5 linked regions of the Homo sapiens genome follow. The protein of the gene in region 4 purifies or fractionates together with the protein of the main gene of each other region. This does not show direct contact. Each region holds a gene or a part of one and is shown on either strand. Other genes may lie near its edges.

What was found.
Region 1: the proteins of ABHD5 (region 4) and TMEM38B purify together in Homo sapiens (affinity purification with mass spectrometry; 2 studies listed by BioGRID and IntAct, with this or other methods). This does not show direct contact.
Region 2: the proteins of ABHD5 (region 4) and SARAF purify together in Homo sapiens (affinity purification with mass spectrometry; 2 studies listed by BioGRID and IntAct, with this or other methods). This does not show direct contact.
Region 3: the proteins of ABHD5 (region 4) and KDM4A purify together in Homo sapiens (affinity purification with mass spectrometry; one large-scale study listed by BioGRID and IntAct). This does not show direct contact.
Region 5: the proteins of ABHD5 (region 4) and SKAP2 purify together in Homo sapiens (affinity purification with mass spectrometry; 2 studies listed by BioGRID and IntAct, with this or other methods). This does not show direct contact.

The regions. Positions count from the first base shown.
Region 1 is NC_000009.12:105,697,525-105,701,043, forward strand, and holds part of TMEM38B (trimeric intracellular cation channel type B), read left to right. Parts: intron 1-3,433; exon of another isoform or gene 3,434-3,519. UniProt on the Homo sapiens protein: Intracellular monovalent cation channel required for maintenance of rapid intracellular calcium release. Acts as a potassium counter-ion channel that functions in synchronization with calcium release from intracellular stores.
Region 2 is NC_000008.11:30,069,564-30,073,082, forward strand, and holds part of SARAF (store-operated calcium entry-associated regulatory factor isoform 1 precursor), read right to left. Parts: intron 497-3,519; coding exon 79-496; intron 1-78. UniProt on the Homo sapiens protein: Negative regulator of store-operated Ca(2+) entry (SOCE) involved in protecting cells from Ca(2+) overfilling.
Region 3 is NC_000001.11:43,653,143-43,656,661, forward strand, and holds part of KDM4A (lysine-specific demethylase 4A), read left to right. Parts: 5' UTR 1-33; coding exon 34-171; intron 172-2,448; coding exon 2,449-2,624; intron 2,625-3,519. UniProt on the Homo sapiens protein: Histone demethylase that specifically demethylates 'Lys-9' and 'Lys-36' residues of histone H3, thereby playing a central role in histone code. Does not demethylate histone H3 'Lys-4', H3 'Lys-27' nor H4 'Lys-20'.
Region 4 is NC_000003.12:43,693,920-43,697,438, forward strand, and holds part of ABHD5 (1-acylglycerol-3-phosphate O-acyltransferase ABHD5), read left to right. Parts: intron 1-3,519. UniProt on the Homo sapiens protein: Coenzyme A-dependent lysophosphatidic acid acyltransferase that catalyzes the transfer of an acyl group on a lysophosphatidic acid.
Region 5 is NC_000007.14:26,735,572-26,739,090, reverse strand, and holds part of SKAP2 (src kinase-associated phosphoprotein 2), read left to right. Parts: intron 1-212; coding exon 213-296; intron 297-3,519. UniProt on the Homo sapiens protein: May be involved in B-cell and macrophage adhesion processes. In B-cells, may act by coupling the B-cell receptor (BCR) to integrin activation. May play a role in src signaling pathway.

The sequences.
Region 1 (3,519 bases), on a different chromosome or scaffold from region 4:
ATGTGTTTGTGCCTCTTATTGGTCATTTGTATTTCATGTAAATTGCTTAATTTTTTTTTGTCCATTTTCTTATTGGGCTGTAGGTTATTGTCTTCTATTTACTGTCTTTGTGGATCATGGATATTCATTCTATTTATGTCTGTAGTCCTTTTTTCCCATAACTCTTGCTATCTTTAACTTTGTTTATATTGTCTTTTATTGCAGAAGTTTAAAAAATCTCATAATATTTTTACTTTTCCATGAAAAAATCTATTAATTTTTTTCTCCTATGTCACTATTGGGATTTGTGCATTTTAAGAAGGGGTTTCTCAGGCCTAAGGTTATAAAAATACTCGTCCTTGATCTTTTTTTAAAAAATTCTATAGTTCTATAAAAGTATAGGTTCGTAATCTATCTGCAGTATTTTTTGTTGTATAGATGTTCCTTTGCAAGTCTGGTCATGGCTGGATAGAACAGTTGGAACTCAATGATCTCAGCAGAGTATGCTCTATGCTCATTGAACTGGTTCTGCTCTAGACCTTTACTAAGATCATCCCACGTGCATAGACCTCTGGAATGTCCTTAGTTCTTGTTTGTTTTCTTTAGCGTCCCATTTTTTTTTTTTCTGTGAGCTACTGAAGTCCTTCCAATGAATTCTTTATGGCTTAAGTTTGTTGGTTTTTGCTGCTTGTAGCCAAGAACCCGGGTTCCATTTCTTTTTCTAGCCTCTTATATATTAAAGAGTGTTTTGTTGAATACTAATGATAGTGAGTGACTTTGTCTTACTCCTGATATTCCTGAATTTAATGAGAATGCTTTTAAAGTTTTCTCAAGAGTGATGTTTGCTATAGGTTTTTATGAGGGACACTTTAAGGAAGTTTTACTTTATTCCCAACTTTCTAGGATATCCCTATATCTTTACACCATCCTGGTGGAGAAGGTGACATATTTTATCAAGTGCTATTTTTTTTTCAAAATCTATTGAGATCATATTGTGTTTCCCATTTAAAAATGTAATGTAGTGAATTACATTATTACGTTTTTTAAAAAATGATGAATCATCCTTATATTCTTGGACTAAACTACTTGATACATTATTTTAATTCATTAGGGATTTTGATTTGGCAGTACTTCATGTAAAATTTTTGCATTTATGTTTATAATAGAAATGAGCCTATTAGGTTATTTTATTGTGTGACCCTCAGTTTGGGCCCAAGGTTATGCTGTTTTTGTAAAATAGATTGGGAAGCTTTCCATTTTTTAAGCTTGGAATGGTTTATTTAATAGGCATTGCTTGTTCTTTGATATTTGGTAGACTTCAACTATGTAGTTTTATGTTTCTTGGTATATTTTAATGGGTAAATCTTATTTTTTTTCCAATCCAGACCTAAGTCATTTTGGTAATTTATGTCTCTCTCAGGAATCATCTATTTCTTTTAGACTTCCAAGTCTATTGGAGTAAATGTTTACATTATATTGTAGAAAATTTCTCTGGATTCTTTGGTAGTTAATTCTTAAATGTTATCTATTTCACTTGAATCTTCTGGATCTTAATCACTTTATGTCCTATGGTAATTTTTTTACACTCCATATATGTCTTTTTTTCTTCTAACTCATTTTGAATAAGATACATTTGTTCAGGCTCAGTAGATGGAGTGAGTAGCTTGTATTACTCTCTATTTATGTGGTCAGCATTCCTTTTTCATAGTCAGAACTGAAGCTAATATGTGTGTACTCCTCCTACTCCAACACCACTTCTTTTAGATTTTTACTTAGAATATGTATGCATTACTTAATTGGCAACTTTTTCCTATCCCCCCAGTGATTGATTCTCTAGAACTCACACCTACAGTAAACTGTAATTCTCATATATCCTACTGCCAGAGTTCTTCATATATTTACCCTCTCAGACGTGTTACTCCTTGAGACTTTATTTTGGTATGCACTCTGCCACTAACAATACCTCACTCCGTACTTTCCCACCATTTATATCGGATCTTTTGTACTGTCTGCCTAGATCTTAAACAATGCCACCAGAAGCAAAATGATAAAGGGGATTAACTCTTTTCTGCCTAAGGTGTGAAGGACTGCATCCCATTTTTGTTTGGTTCAGGTTTTCGGCTTTAAAATCCCAGGAAAGATAATACTCCTCCAGCCTTCTATGTAACTTTTGCTTCATAAGCAAAGACATAAAAGACATCAGGTAATACAACAAGTGGGATTAATTTTTTCTTTGTTTACCTCCATTTGTCTCGTGAACAAACATGTGAATCCTCCTGAACCCTTGCGTGTGATTGGCTATAGTTTTCAGTTTGGGCTGATAGTATAAGTTTTTTTTGTTTGTTTGTTTTTCTTTTCTCTGTCTCCTGGGCATTTTATTAGGAAGTTGGAATATGCTGTTTTGGTGGTTGCTAGTGAGAAGCCATTTTAACAGGAAGTTTACATCATTACTTTTAATCTATCTTATCTTACATTTTAAATGTCTCTTAAGTCTTCATTAAAATAAACACATTTCTTCAATCCTACATTCACATCAAACCACCATTTTGTGTAAGACTTCCTGACTACAGTAATTTCTATTACACACAAAATGTATTGTTTTACTCTAAATTCTGCCATGACTATTCTGCTAACCTCTCTGAAGTCATACATAATTAATTTTAGCAAATATTCATTGAAACTCTGTATTGGGCATTATATTAGATGTTTAGGATACCGCCATGAAAGATGCTGTTATAGCCCTAAAGAGACTTATTGGTGCTTTTTCTTTATTTTTGATAGTGTCACATAAGGTTGCACTACCTTTTCTACACAATAATAGTAGCCATCATTGATTTTAGATACTGGGAGAACATTTCAGTATGTTAATTCTATTCCTCACACATTCCTGTAAGGTAGGTATTATTTAACTCATTTTATAGATGAGGAATAGTTTTAAGGGATAAAATAACCTCCCTTAAGTCACATGGTTTAGTAAATTATGGAGCTAGTTCTTGACTCCAGATCTGGTTCATTCCAAAATTTCTTACTATTCTGTGCCTTATCTTTGCATGACCATTTACTGTTCCTGGTTTCAATAATTAGCAATTTCTCAATAAGGTGTCACTTGACATGGTTATTTTCTCCAATGATTTCTGTCGTTTCTATGAATTAAATCCTGGAATAAAGTTTGTCATTGTTCCTTTCCTGTAATTTGTGGGAGATGAAAGTTTGTAAGTCTAGGATTTATCAGTTCTGGGCATCCTGGAAAGGTGACAGCAGTGGTGGCAGCTGAGTTTTGCAATATCTTTATGAGTCCCCATGTAAAAACAGGGAAAAGTGCAAAAGTCATAAATGTACAGCTCAGTGGATTTTCAAACACACCCATATGCAGATAAAAATAGAACATTTATGACACTCCCCAAAGCCCCTTTGTTACATGATTTAAAGAGCCAGAGGCCATGTGCACGGGTTCACATGGCCTGTGGAGGAAACACCTGAGCAGTGTTTCCTCCACAGGGGTCTCAGTCTGGGCTCTAAAGAGCTCCTCCACCAAGTTTC
Region 2 (3,519 bases), on a different chromosome or scaffold from region 4:
TTTTCTATTTCAGAACCAAGCACAGGATGCACTAACCTCACACCCGCTCTATTTATGGCCACTGCGAGGGAAACATACCTGTGAACTCAGACTTAAAGCCTGGGGGAGGAGGTCCTGCTGAGTTGGTGAATCTCTGGTAACGGTGGGAAAATGGAGGATACTCAGAGTACGGTGGAGGAGAATACTGCCCGTCACTCAGGAACAGCTTATAGACTACAAACGCGATCCCAAGGAGTACCACAATGGTAATCAATCCACTCATGTTACAGGAATCCGCCGAGGACCACTTATAATAATAATCAGAGAAAGAGGCAAAGCCGTGCTGCTTTCCAGACTCCTTCAGTTTCTGCAGGCCAAGTTCTGTATAATCTAAATTATACTCCAAGCCACAAGAACCTCTTAGTACATACTGGTCTTCAGAGGACTCATAGCCTTCACAGCTCACCACAGTTTTTCCAAATTTGTATGCAATATCTAAGTCCGTCTTACATTCCCACTGTGAAGAAAAATAGAAACAGACTATTAGAAACAAACATTTTTTTCATTTAATATATGTTACTTGGGGGCCGGGCGCAGTGGCTCACACCTGTAATCTCAGCACTTTCGGAGGCCAAGGCGGGTGGATCACGCGGTCAGGAGTTCAAGACCCGCCTGGCCAAGATGGTGAAACCCCATCTTTATTAAAAATACAAAAATTAGCCAGGCGCAGTGGCAGGCGCCTATAATCCCAGCTACTAAGGAGGCTGAGGCAGGAGAATCACTTGAACCTGGGAGGTGGAGGTTGCAGTGAGCTGAGATCGTGATTGCACTCTAGCCTGAGCAACAGAGCAAGACTCCGTCTCAAGAAAAAAAAAAATGTTACTTGGGCTATATATCCGTCATAAAATTGCAAAATGAAGCAAGGGAATGATCCGCAAAATTCACAATGGTAAGTATTCATGTCTAAGGGAAGGAAAATGAGGGGCTTCAAAGATAATGGTGGTATCTGTGTTCTACTTCTTATGCTGGATATTGCGTATATGAGTATTCGTTTTATTACTATTCTTTACATATACATGTTATATATCCATCTGAACATATTAAGTATTCTACAATTTATAAAATTTAAGCAAACTGCCAAAATGTCAACTTTTTGCCACTGTTGTTCAAGATGCTTTCTTTAAAAATCCAGATTTCTTAAAAGATGTTAAGGCTCAAAACAGCATCATATATGAATGTCTGGTAGCTACACAAAGCAACAGAGATATTACATAACCTTCAGAGAAAAAAACTTTTCTACACAAATTTTATAAAACCATGGACTAACTTTCCAAGGTCCAATTCTATGTAATTCTCTTGTATTTTTTAAAGATATTTAGAAAAATGCAAAAAGAACCCAGGCTAGCCCCAAAAATGTCCACCTTATAAAAAAATATATGCCCAAGTTTGGTCTAGATTCTATATTTTGTGGTGGAAAAAGCAATATGCTTCTTTAACTCTTAAGATACAAGCTAAAGGCCAGGCGCGGTGGTTCATGCTTGTAATCCCAGCACTTTGGGAGGCCAAGGTGGGCGGATCACCTGAGGTCAGGAGTTCAAGAACAGCCTGGCCAAAATGGCAAAACCCCATCTCTACGAAAAATACAAAAATGAGGTGGGCATGGTGGCAGGCGCCTGTAATCCCAGCTACTTCAAAAATAGAGGCTGAGGCAGGAGAACGACTTGAACCCAGAGGCAGAGGTTGCAGTGAGCCAAGATCATGTCACTGCACTGTACTCCAGACTGGGTGACAGAGGGAGACTCCGTCTCAAAAAAAATGAAAAAAGACACAAGCTAAAGTAGATTTAATTGGTTCTGTTGCCCTTCTGCAAATTTTTGTACAAATTATTTTCCTCTTTCAAAGTTCACACTATTTTACTTCATTTATAATAGCCTTATTGAAATATAATTCACACATACCATACAATTCACCCATTTCAATGGTTTTAGTATATTCACAGTTGTGCTACTGTCACCACAATCAATTTTAGAATATTTTCGTCACCCCAAAGAAATATTGTGCCCATTAGCAGTCACTCTCCATTCTCCCGCCGCACACCTCCCAACCAACTTTCTGTCTATATGGATTTCCCTAAATGGACAGTTCACAGGAATGTAATAATACAATATGTGGTCTTTTGTGACTGGCTTCTTTCACTTAGCATAACATTTTCAAGATTCATCCACGTTGTAGCATGTATTACTATTTCACTTTTTTATGGCTAAATAATATTTCTTTGCATGGATATACCACTTTTATTTATCGTTCATTAGTAATGGACATTTGAATTGTTTCTACTTTTTGGCTATTATGAATAATGCTGCTATGTATATTTGTATGCAAGTTTTTGTGTGGACATGTGTTTTCAATTCTCTTGGGTGTATATACCTTGGAGTGGAATGACTGAGGCATACATGGTAACTCTACATTTAAACTTTTGAGGAACTGCCAATTTTCCAAAGCAGCTGGACCATTTCACATTCCCAACAGCAGTGTATGAGGGTTCCAATTTCTCGACATCCTCACCAGCCTTGTTATCTTTTTTATTATAGCCTTCCTACTGAGTGTGAAGTGGTATCTTACTGTGGCTTTGATTTGCATTTCTCTGATGGCTAATAATAAGGAACACTTTTCATGTGCTTATTTATTACTTATATATCTTCCTTGTAGAAATGTCTATTCAGATGCTCTGCCATTTTTACCTTGGTTGTTTTCTTACTGAGTTGTAAGAGTTATTTTATATTCTAAATACAAGTCCCTCACCAATTATGATTTGCTAAGCTTCCTCCCATTCTGTAGGTTGTCTTTTCACTTTCTTGATGATGTCCTTTGATAGTCAAAAGTTTTTCATTTGGATAAGATGCAGTTTTTCTTTTGTTGCTGTTACTACACTGTTTTTAAAATAATTTTATTTGGAGGAAGATTCATAGGTTTGTTGACTTAGGTAAATAAAACAAGCTAAACTTGTATTGGTATTTCATGTTAACTACCACTTCCTTAATCATGCGTACTTACAAGTAGCTTCTAAGTACTGTATTTAAATTTCAACTCTTGGAATAGAAGGAGTTTCTGTCCTGCTACTAAATGGCCTCTCTCCTGCTACTAAACATAAGCCAATGTATGATATGCTCAACACTCCTTTGCTCATGCTATTCCCTTCTCTAGCCTTTCCTCTCTAAAAATGTTATCATTCCTTCCTAACACAGCACAAATGTCTCATCCTTTAAGTCCCAATGGCTCCAACCAGACGTGACTTTATAATGTTGTGTTGGGACCTACATGTAATCTGAGTGCCTGTCTTACCTCTTCTACTAGTAAGACAGTTTCTTCATTCTACCTTATTCATTTTTGTATATTGCAATTAATACATGCTTAATGAATGACATCACCATTACTGCCTTTTTTTCCCATCAAGACTCTAAAAGTCATAAGTAAAGTGGAGTGAGACTTCTGCTATAACCCAGAGAATTCTATGATTCAACTTAGCAGTACTGGGGGAAA
Region 3 (3,519 bases), on a different chromosome or scaffold from region 4:
GTCTGACTAAAGGGACCTCAAAAAGGAGGGAAAATGGCTTCTGAGTCTGAAACTCTGAATCCCAGTGCTAGGATAATGACCTTTTATCCAACTATGGAAGAGTTCCGAAACTTCAGTAGATACATTGCCTACATTGAATCCCAAGGAGCTCATCGGGCAGGGCTAGCCAAGGTAAGGAGCTGGGATTGTTCAAATGGTTTTGTTACCTAGGGCAGAGCAGTAAGATTTTTTTCCTACATTTGGGCCGGAACTGTGTTTTACTGAAAGTTGGGTGGGGTGATGACTTTAGTGAATGCGGTTCTATTTGCAAGTTAATTCCCGTTGTTAACATCAGAAGCATCTCTGCTTTTAGGTAGGAAGAGAGCTACTTGGAATCTTCAGAAAGGGGGAGGTAAAGAGCTAGTGTCTCCAGGCCTGGCTGCTGTTGTGCCTCAGCCCTCTTGGTGGAGCTGGGTGCTGTGGTGTTATTGAACTGCCAGTGAGTGCTTATGCCATCTGACTTCTCTTGCTCTCATTTCAGTCTCATCCAGCACTCTAGTAGCAATTTGGCTTCCCATGTGGACTTTCTTCAAGGGGAGAGAATGCACTGGCCAGCCAACATGAGTATTCTGGTCCTTGTAATTTGAAATTGGTTTCTGGTTTGTACTTCTTTCTCCTGTGAGTTGGATTCGTTATTTTTCCTGAGTCAAATCAGCTTTTCATATATTCTGTCACAATCAGGTTGAGTGCTGGAAGCTGAAAGAACTGCATTTCTGGAGAGATCCTCAGGAAACTGAGAGGCAGGGACCTCAGTCTAAGCCAGGAGGAAATTTTTTACACCATTTTATGTTGTTTGAATTCCCTACCATATGTGCTTGTTACATTTTCAATATGAAAAGAGAAAGCAAGAACATTGGCTACAAAGCTGAGGACCAGTCTTGGACCCTGGTGCCTCCAGAGACTTGAGACGACCACATCCTCTTTCTTATCTGCAGATACGGCTACTGCTGGGTTAATAACAGCAGGCGGGAATAGCAGGGCCTGCAGTGCAGTTTTTCATAGCACATTGCTTTTTTTGGTTGTACTTTATTAGATTTAAAGTTACCAAAAAAATGTCGGTTATTACAAGTTAAATATTTCAAACGCAGATAAAGAAAAGGCTGATCTTCATCCACCTTCTCCAGTGCCGTCTCCTTAAGTGGTATTAGCTCCCTCCACACCTTTTTCTCTGCTCATACAAACATACACACATATAAAATAGTGTTATTTGTTTTGTTTTTAAAAGAGAATGGCATCATGCCATATACATTCCTGTGTTGGTTCGTTCATTCTTTTTTCTTTTTTTTTTTCTTTTTTCCTTTTTAACAACATATATTCCTCCCTCTAGGTCAATTATGGATTCAACTCATTCTTCTTTTTTCTCATGTCGACTGTCTTGTTAATTTATTACTATTGGAATGGGTAATTTGATTATGTGAGTAAAAACAGAATGCTATTGGAAGGTAGCTAATGTAGAGTCTTGCTCCCTTTCCGTATTTTCTTATATGTCCTTTCAGTGTTGCCTTATGCAGATGCTTGTGAGTGTGTGTGTGTGTGTGTGTGTGTGTGTGTGTGTGTGTTGTTTTCTCCCTTGTTACATAAAGTAAAACAATACTCTCTAATTAAAAAAAAAAAAGCTGTATAGTATTCCATAAAGCAGATCTATCTTACTTAACTATTCAAGATTAGATTTTTTTTGTTTTTTTTTGAGATGGAGTTTCGCTCTTGTTACCCCAGCTGGAGTGCAATGGCGCAATCTTGGCTCACTGCAACCTCTGCCTCCGGGTTCAAGCGATTCTCCTGCATCAGCCCCCCAAATAGCCGGGATTATAGTTGAGTGCCACCACACCAGGCTAATTTTTGTGTTTTTAGTAGAGATGGGGTTTCACCATGTTGGCCAAGCTGATCTCAAACTCTGACCTCAGGTGATCCACCTGCCTCGGCCTCCCAAAGTGCTGGGATTACCGGCATGAGCCACTGTGCCCGGCCTCAAGATTAGATTTTTAAGAATGTTATGCTTCTTTGTAATTAAACTGTAATCTAGTGTGTGAAAAAAGGAAATTCTGTACAAGTATAGAGTTGACCAAATCAAGTAAAGTTGTGTTTGTGATTTTTTTAAAGAGAGCCCTGGGCTAGGAGATTGAGAGAGAATCAAGTCTTTAATCTCCTTTCTTGGTGTCCAAATAAGATACTGAAGCTGGGAACAAGTATTACTTACCTTAGGTTGCTGCAATTAGGCAGCTGGTTGGTGGCAAAAGTGGATCAGGGTTAGCATGCCTGTGACTTACTGTGTTTTGGTGAATGTGGGTAAATCAAAGTAACTGTCTAGTAAAATTGACTGTTAGGTTGGCTGGTAACTACATGCTTCCTGGACTCTGACTGGCTTGCCAGGTTTCTCATCTGTCTTTTTGTTTCTTGTGTTCCCTTCAGGTTGTTCCTCCAAAAGAGTGGAAGCCACGAGCATCCTATGATGACATTGATGATTTGGTCATTCCTGCCCCCATTCAACAGCTGGTGACGGGGCAGTCTGGCCTCTTTACTCAGTACAACATACAGAAGAAAGCCATGACTGTTCGAGAGTTCCGCAAGATAGCCAATAGCGATAAGTGAGTGGAAACCCTTTCTTACCTGACATAGCACCTAGGACCCTGGTGTCTCATCCTCCTAGCATCTCCAGGACTGCTGCTGTCCTGATGAACAGTGTCTTCAGCAGGATGGCTCTGTTCTAGCTGTCTCCCTTTCTGCTTTTTTTATGGAAGCATTCCCTCCTCTCAGGACTGTGTCCCAGTCTAAACCTGTTCCTGTTCTTATAACAACAAATCCCATTGTTTTTCCATCAGAAGTAGAATCATTTTCTGACTCTAAAGTTGCAAGGAGAAAGTTGGATGTGGTGCACAAGGAGCTTTTGCTGGGTATTATCAACCACCTGCTCATCAAAAGTGCTTTAGTTCCACTTCCTCTCTCTCGGGATGCTCTGTGTTTAATTGTGCTGGAATTTCTCACTGCCCATCCAGCCTGCTAGCTCATTTCTGTTTTGACATTAACAGTGTGAGTAAACCACCAAGCTGGTTGCTATTTTCTGTCACTCCTTCTTTCTCTGTACATTCCTGTCTCTTTTAGAGATATCTTTCTTTGTGTAGGCCTGTTTTCAGTTCTTCTCTGCTGTTGGTTTTTTTTTTTTTTTTTTTTTTTTTTGAGATGGTGTCTCACTTTATTGCCCAGGCTGGAGTGCAGTGGAGTGATCTTGGCTCACTGCAACCTCTGTCTCCCAGGTTCACGTGATTCTCCTGCCTCAGCCTCCCAAGTAGCTGGGACTACAGGCACGCGCCACCATGCTTGGCTATTTTTTGTATTTTCAGTAGAGACAGGGTTTCGCCACATTGGCCAGGCTGGTCTTGAACTCCTGACCTCAAGTGATCCTCCTGCCTTGGCCTCCCAAAGTGCTGGGATTACAGGCAAGAGCCACCACTCCTGGCCCTTCTCCGCTGTTTTTAATGTTTA
Region 4 (3,519 bases):
AATTGTCAGATGTTTGTGCCTGATTCCTCAAATTTAACATGTCCAGACCATGATCTTATTTTTACCTTCCTGCTCCTAAACTAAACGATATAAAAAGCTTAGTTCTGGCCGGGCGCCGTGGTTCACGCCTGTAATCCTAGCACTTTGGGGTAACACCGTGAAACCCCGTCTGTATTAAAAATACAAAAAAATTAGCCGGGCAAGGTGGCGGCGCCTGTAGTCCCAGCTACTCGGGAGGCTGAGGCAGGAGAATGGCGTGAACCCAGGAGGCGGAGCTTGCAGTGAGCCGAGATCGTGCCACTGCACTCCAGCCTGGGCGACAGAGCAAGACTCCGTCTCAAAAAAAAAAAAAAAAAAAAAGCTCAGTTCTTCCTCTTGAAACATTATATTGGCTTAATCATTGCCTTGACTAATTGTTAGATTATTAGTTTAATCTCATGGTTCTGTAATTCCCACTCCTGATTGTGAGTTACTAAAAAAAATCATATGGAGAGGTGATTTTATTAAAACTGATTATTCAGTTGAGACCTAGGATTTTTAGTTTTATTCTCTTTATTATCTAGTGAATGAACTTATTTTAGAACTGATGCAAAGAAATGTCACTGACTTGTTAAGTAGAGTACACCTGTGGCTTCTTCAAGTGTGTTTGATAATGAGGTCATATAAGTGACTCTAAAATGGTTTGTTTACTGTGTGAAGGAAGGTAGGAAACAATGGGGAGATACGTGTTACCAGCACATGGCTTGTCTAAAACACTTATACTACCAATCTGAGTCTTTAAAAGTTACAGGTTGGGGGGGGAGGGGCAGTTAAAACAGTATTAATTAATGTGTTAACATATATTAGAGGGCCTGGATTGTCATTGATCTAATAGTGATAATTTGAATCACTTAAGTATCATTTATCCAAAATAAAATGGCATGTTAGTCACTTAAATTGTAGCTGTATGAGACCATATTCTTTTTTTTTTGTTTGTTTTCCAGAGACAGGTTCTTGCTCTGTCACCCAGGCTGGAGTGCAGTGGCACAATCATGGCTCACTGCAGCCTCAACCTCCTGGGCTCAAGCAATCCTGCCACCTCAGCAACTTGCCCCCCAGCCCCTGTATTCCACCCCCCCAAGGTTGCTGGGACTATAGGCATGTGCCAGGCGGCTGGGACTACAGGCATGTGCCAGGCAGCTGGTCTTGACCTCCTGACTGAGCTCAAGCAATCCTCCCACCTCAGCCTCCCAAAGTACGCTTTTTTCTTTTCTTTTTCTCTTTCCCAAGAATAGGATTTAAAAAGTCAATTCCCAAGAAAGGTCTTTATTTACCCAAGTGTTATAATTTCCAATTTGGATGTTTTTAGTCATTGGTTGAGGAAGTATCTCAGATAAATATAAATGTAAATATAAATAAATGTATATATTCATACCTGTAATTCATTTGGATATTTATAATAAAAATCAAAGCCTCATGGTTTCTTTAAATGAGATAGAGAGCTGTGCTTAGGTTTATCAAGAGCAATAAGTTTATGTGATTTTTCTCTCTCAACTACTAGAATAGGAATGGAGGCCATTTTAAACAAAATTTTAATATAATGAAATCCTCTTTACTTATAACCTAATTAGAAATATTAAGTGGCCAAGAGTGTATGGAAACTGGCCAGATTTCTGCATATTTTCTTCAGAATACTTCGAAACCTCTTTCACTGTTTCATAATGTTTATAGATTGTGCAATTCAGGTTTAGTAATACTGTAGATAGACAGATGTGTTAAAGAACAAAACAGAGATTACCAGGAAACTTAAGTGTTGATAGTATGGAGTATAAGTATGACATAATATTTTTTTAGAAGGATTACGTAAAAAGTTAATGGAAAAAGTGGTGTCTATCTCTCACTCAGGATACTTAAAGTCAGATTCTTAGGTAAAATATACTCTATTAATATGTTAAGCACATCTTACTTGGCTTTCCTTAGAATTGTCACCTCTGATGTGATCTTTTATAACTTTTCTTACTCAAAAGTCTGCTCACTAAAAAGATTCTTAGTTTGCACTACAATGGTTGTAAAACAAGAATCCTTTCTTTTTTTGTTTTTGTTTCTGTGATTAGATGCTTTAGGGCTTATATCCTTTGCCTTGCTAATAAGGTAAGTGCCCAACTGATGGGGCTGTGTAGAAAACTTTTTGGCTTGCATTGGTAAGCTTTCCCCATGTCATAGATGCTTACTATTAGAAAGCTATAGTTCCTGTGGTGAATGACTTCTCTTTGTATTACAGTTGACACTTTGGTCACTGTTGAATTTAGGCCTCAGTGATGGATGATAGTGTTTATTGCTTGTCTCCTTAAATAAAATAGAGAAGTTAGGTTTTGCTTTTCTATTTATTTTCCAAAGCTATGAGGAAGAGGCATTGAATCTAGTTTACTGTTTTATAGGTGGGCTGTGTGAATTTAATTTTTGCCTTGAATTTTGTGACCTCAGAAGAATGGCAGAATATCTGACAAGCTTCAGTCCTGTGTCCTTAGTTCCAGTCTTCTATATACTAAACCTAGGAATGCTGAGCAACACTGAATGGCATAGGATACCACTGGGGAGGGGGCAAAGGGTCTCTTTGAAGGTGAGATTAATTTATCCCGAAGACAGGAGGTAGAGTTGGATGGGTAAGTTTTAAAGGGTTGAAGCAATAGAGGTTGCAAGGTAAGGTATGAGACCTTTGAACAAACAGGAATCAACTAAAGGGTGGAAAAGATAAGGCCCTTGCTTTTTACTCATTGGAAATGTTCCTTGAAGCCTATTATGTATATAACACTTAATCCTGTAGAGTGTCTCAAAGAAGCAGAGGATAGTTTCTGTAAAACATTTAATCATCTGGTTAAAGTGAAACTGGACAGAAGCATTATCAGGGCTTAGGGGAAGAGTGCTATCTTTACAATTCCATTAAGAGTAAAAATATCTTGCTATGTTTTGTTAAATATATATTTTTCTGTTAGAAAAAAACCCACTTTAAAAAATCACCTGTTTTGATGAAAATGCTTCTGTGAAAACCTGAAGAGAGTTGGTGCCTCTTCTTATGGTTGAAGATCCCTACTTTTTAATGTAAGCTTACAAACATGAAAACATGTTTTGCCCCTTCTCTGAGTTGAGCTGGTCACTAGAAGGCAAATCCATGGACAGACAGTCCCATTGTTTGAAAGCTGGTTTTGTGGTAAGTGGTAAGTTGGTGGAGGTAGGCATGATTCTTCCATTACAGGCTGGTATGTAACTTTTTAAACACTGGTGCTTTGTACATAGTAGGTATTCAGTGTCTGAATTATTTTTTGAGTGTCGTTTTTTAAAAAAGTATCCTTTTTTAATGCAAAGAATGCATTTGTGTTTTCTTTGCCCCAGTTTGTCTGTGATATCAACTGGAGCAATAGTAGCTTATACTTCATTTCACTGTAATTTTTTTTAATTGACCTCTGATTCTCTCTGGCAAATAATTGTGATATGGTTCGAGGGATGTTTGTTTAAGACAATGGATGAGATTGAGTTGTAAGT
Region 5 (3,519 bases), on a different chromosome or scaffold from region 4:
GTTGATCCCATAAGTATGGCAGCCCCATAGCTACTTTACTTTATTCCCTTTAGCTGTGTTGGTTTGTTGTTGTTTGGTTTTTTGTCTCTTGGAAAAGAAGATACAAATTAGTCACACAATGTTAGAGCTCAGAGGAATCTTAGAAATCATATTAATTAACTTTTTCTTTTACAGTAAGGAAATGGCCTTACATTTTCCCCTCTTTATTGCAGATCACAGCTTTCTGGGATTTGAATGGCAGAAACGGTGGTGTGCTCTCAGTAAAACGGTATTCTATTATTATGGAAGTGATAAAGGTAATGTTGGTGTTCAATTATATCAACTACTATTGCAAAAGAATTTTTGGCCATCCCTTCCCCCTCTTTTGAGTACAGAGTAAACTGAAGACAAACTAATAATAACTGAGAATTATAACAATTATAATCTGACTAATTTATGATTCATTTCATTATTTGACAAATGCTCCAAATACCAGAATACCCTCAGAGCTAAAACAATTGTGTTGTATTGAATTAGAAAAGAGAGTAAAATAACTTTAATCTGTGTGGCCTTTCACCTTAGGGAATATTTATTATCCAGCCTACTGTTGTAGAATTTCTGGAAAAGTTAAGAACATAGGGTTGTGAGAGTTTCAATGGCAGAAAATAGATTATTTTTCTTAAATATTTTAAAATAAAATTAGATAAAATTAAATACGAACAGCACCTTTCTGAGCTCCCTTTACAGATTTAAGGAATAACAGCAAACGTGTACATAGAATTTACTATATACTGGGCACCGTTCTAAGCACTTTGTCTAAGTACGTTAGCTATGTTAACTTGTTTAGCTCACAACAACTCTGTAAGTACTATTATTAGCACCATTAATTTGACTTTTAGGAAAACTGAGAACAGAGAGGTTAAGTGACTTGTTCAAGGTCACAGAGTTGGAAAATGGCAGATCTAGGAATTTGTTTTTCCTTTGTTTTTAGAAACAGGGTCTTGTCTCGGTGCCTAGGCTGGAGAGCTGTGACTGTTCACAGGTGTAGTCATCACACCCTGCAGCCTCAAACTCCTGGGCTCAAGTGATCTTCCTGTCTCAGTCTCCCAGGTAGCTGGGATTACAGGTGCACACCGCTGTACCCAGCTCAAATTTGGGATTTTAACCTAGAGAATATGGTTAGAGTCCATGTTCTCAACCACTATTGTCACTACATTAATTTAGAAATAATAGGATACATTTTATAACTTCATTGTTAATTAATAAATCTCTCAGTTGTAGTTCACATAATTTTAAGATTGTTATTTGAACAAATAAAGCCACCAAATAATGAAATTTAAAGATTGTAAGCTTTCTGAGTTTTGTTTTATTCTGGGGAAAACAGGCTAGGAGTTGAATATTATAAAGTAAAGGTTGTATCAAAATAGATAATGTTCATTTCCAGAAAGGACACTTTAAGAAGAAAAAGGCAAAAGTATCACTGAATGTAAGCTTTCCTATGGAATTGTTATCAGTGTTGTTTGGAAATTTATGTTTTATTTGACATTATTTATAGTTTTTAGAGTTTTTTCCCCCATTCTAAAAACATACAGGTAAGATTGTCATATTTCAGATAAGTCTGAAATACTTACATAATGCTGGAAGTTGTTCTTACCTTTTGGCTAATGAGATTAACAAATTAATTAATTTAGTAGCTAGTTTGCATTCCATCACTAATTTACAGTATGTTCAGATGTAGTAATGGCATCAGTGAAGTGTAAACTGTAAACAGCTATAAACAAGCATCTTTCTTCTGCTAAGGGTCAGTAGTGAAGTAGGTCAGAAAATTTAGAGTCCAAGTTCAGTTACGATTATCACAGATCATAGAAATATAGTTTTGTATGATATTGTGAATTTAGATCGAGATACTACCTTCCACAAAATATCCTCTTTTTCACCAGACCAGGGGAGGGAGGTTTCAGATCCTTGTGACTTTGATTCAATTAGGCTTCTCATTTCTAATTTCTTTAAGAATCAATGAATACTAATGTCAGTGTTTCCTCCATTTCTAGTCCTGACTGGCATATAACAATGGTTAGGTCAAAGATTAGCAAGAGTTTCCCCAAAACCCAAAGCGTGTTAATATTTACTTCAAACACTAATATATTCAATGAAAACATTTTAGTTAGAGTTATTTAGATATTAGTTACATTCCTTTTTTTTTTTTTCTTTTTAGAGATGCGGGGGCCTCACTCTGTCACCCAAGCTGGAGTGCAGTGGTGCCATCATAGCTTACTGCAATCTTGAATTCCTGAGTTCATTTTTATTCTTATTTGATGAGACCTAATGGTAGTAACATTGTTTGTAATTTGCATTTTAACTACTTTGTGATCCATTTAGCCCTTTCTGTCATTTCTGTTACTGGAAGGGGGTCTTGATCCAGACCCCAGGAGAGGGTTCTTGGATCTCATGCAAGAAAGAATTTGAGGCCAATCCGTAGAGGGAAGTGAAAGCAAGTTTATTAAGAAAGTAAAGAAACAAAAGAATCACTACTCCATAGGCAAAGCAGAGCATAGGCTGCTCAGCTGCTTACACTTATTGTTACTTCTTGATTATATGCTAAACAGGCAGTGGATTATTCATGAGTTTTCCTGAACTGGGGTTGGCAATTCTCAGAACTGAGGGTTTCTCCCCCTTTTTAAGCCATATAGGGTAACTTCCTGATGTTGCCATGGCATTTGTAAACTATCATGGCACTGGTAGGAGTGTCTTTTAGCATGCTAATGCGTTATAATTAGCATATAATGAGCAGTGAGGAAAACCAAAGGTCATTTTCATCACCATCTTGATTTTGGTGGGTTTTGGCCAGTTGCTTTCCTGCATCCTTTTATCAGCAAGGTCTTTGTGATCTGTACCTTGTGCCAACCTCCTATCTCATCATGTGACTAAGAATGCCTAACCTCCTGGGAATGCAGCCCCCATAGGTCAAAGCCTTATTTTACTCAGCCCCTATTCAAGACGGAGTTGCTCTGGTTTAAAAGCCTCTGACACTTCCACTTTAAAAAAATTACCATTTTAGCATTCCTTTTTCATGTTGATGTCTGAAGATGTGGCTTGTGTTTCCTTAAATTTTTCCCTTTTACTTTGCAGCCTCCTGTTTCCAGTGAAATTTTAGATTTGTTTCTTGTGGTTCTTTTTTCTATTGGCGGTTTCATTCGAAATTTTTAGCCAGTTCCTCTCTTTTAAGGGACTCCAAAAAAAGATCTGTCTTTAGACAGTTTTTAATTACTTGTTTGGCATGATCCCGATTTCCTTCCTTTATATCTTTTTCTTACCAGGAAAATATGTCAAATAATTTTTTTCTTTTGTGAAATTAGATATGATTTTTTATAGCCTTGTTTACTGTATGTGTGAACCATTTACCTAATGGGAAGAACTCATATCTAGCTATATGAGAACTATAATCCTCCAACTAAGTAGGATTTAGATAAATGGATTATAGAGGCACAGAAGGAGTTGACACCACTTACTAGGTTAAACTGTGCTTTGTTACTGTTTGAC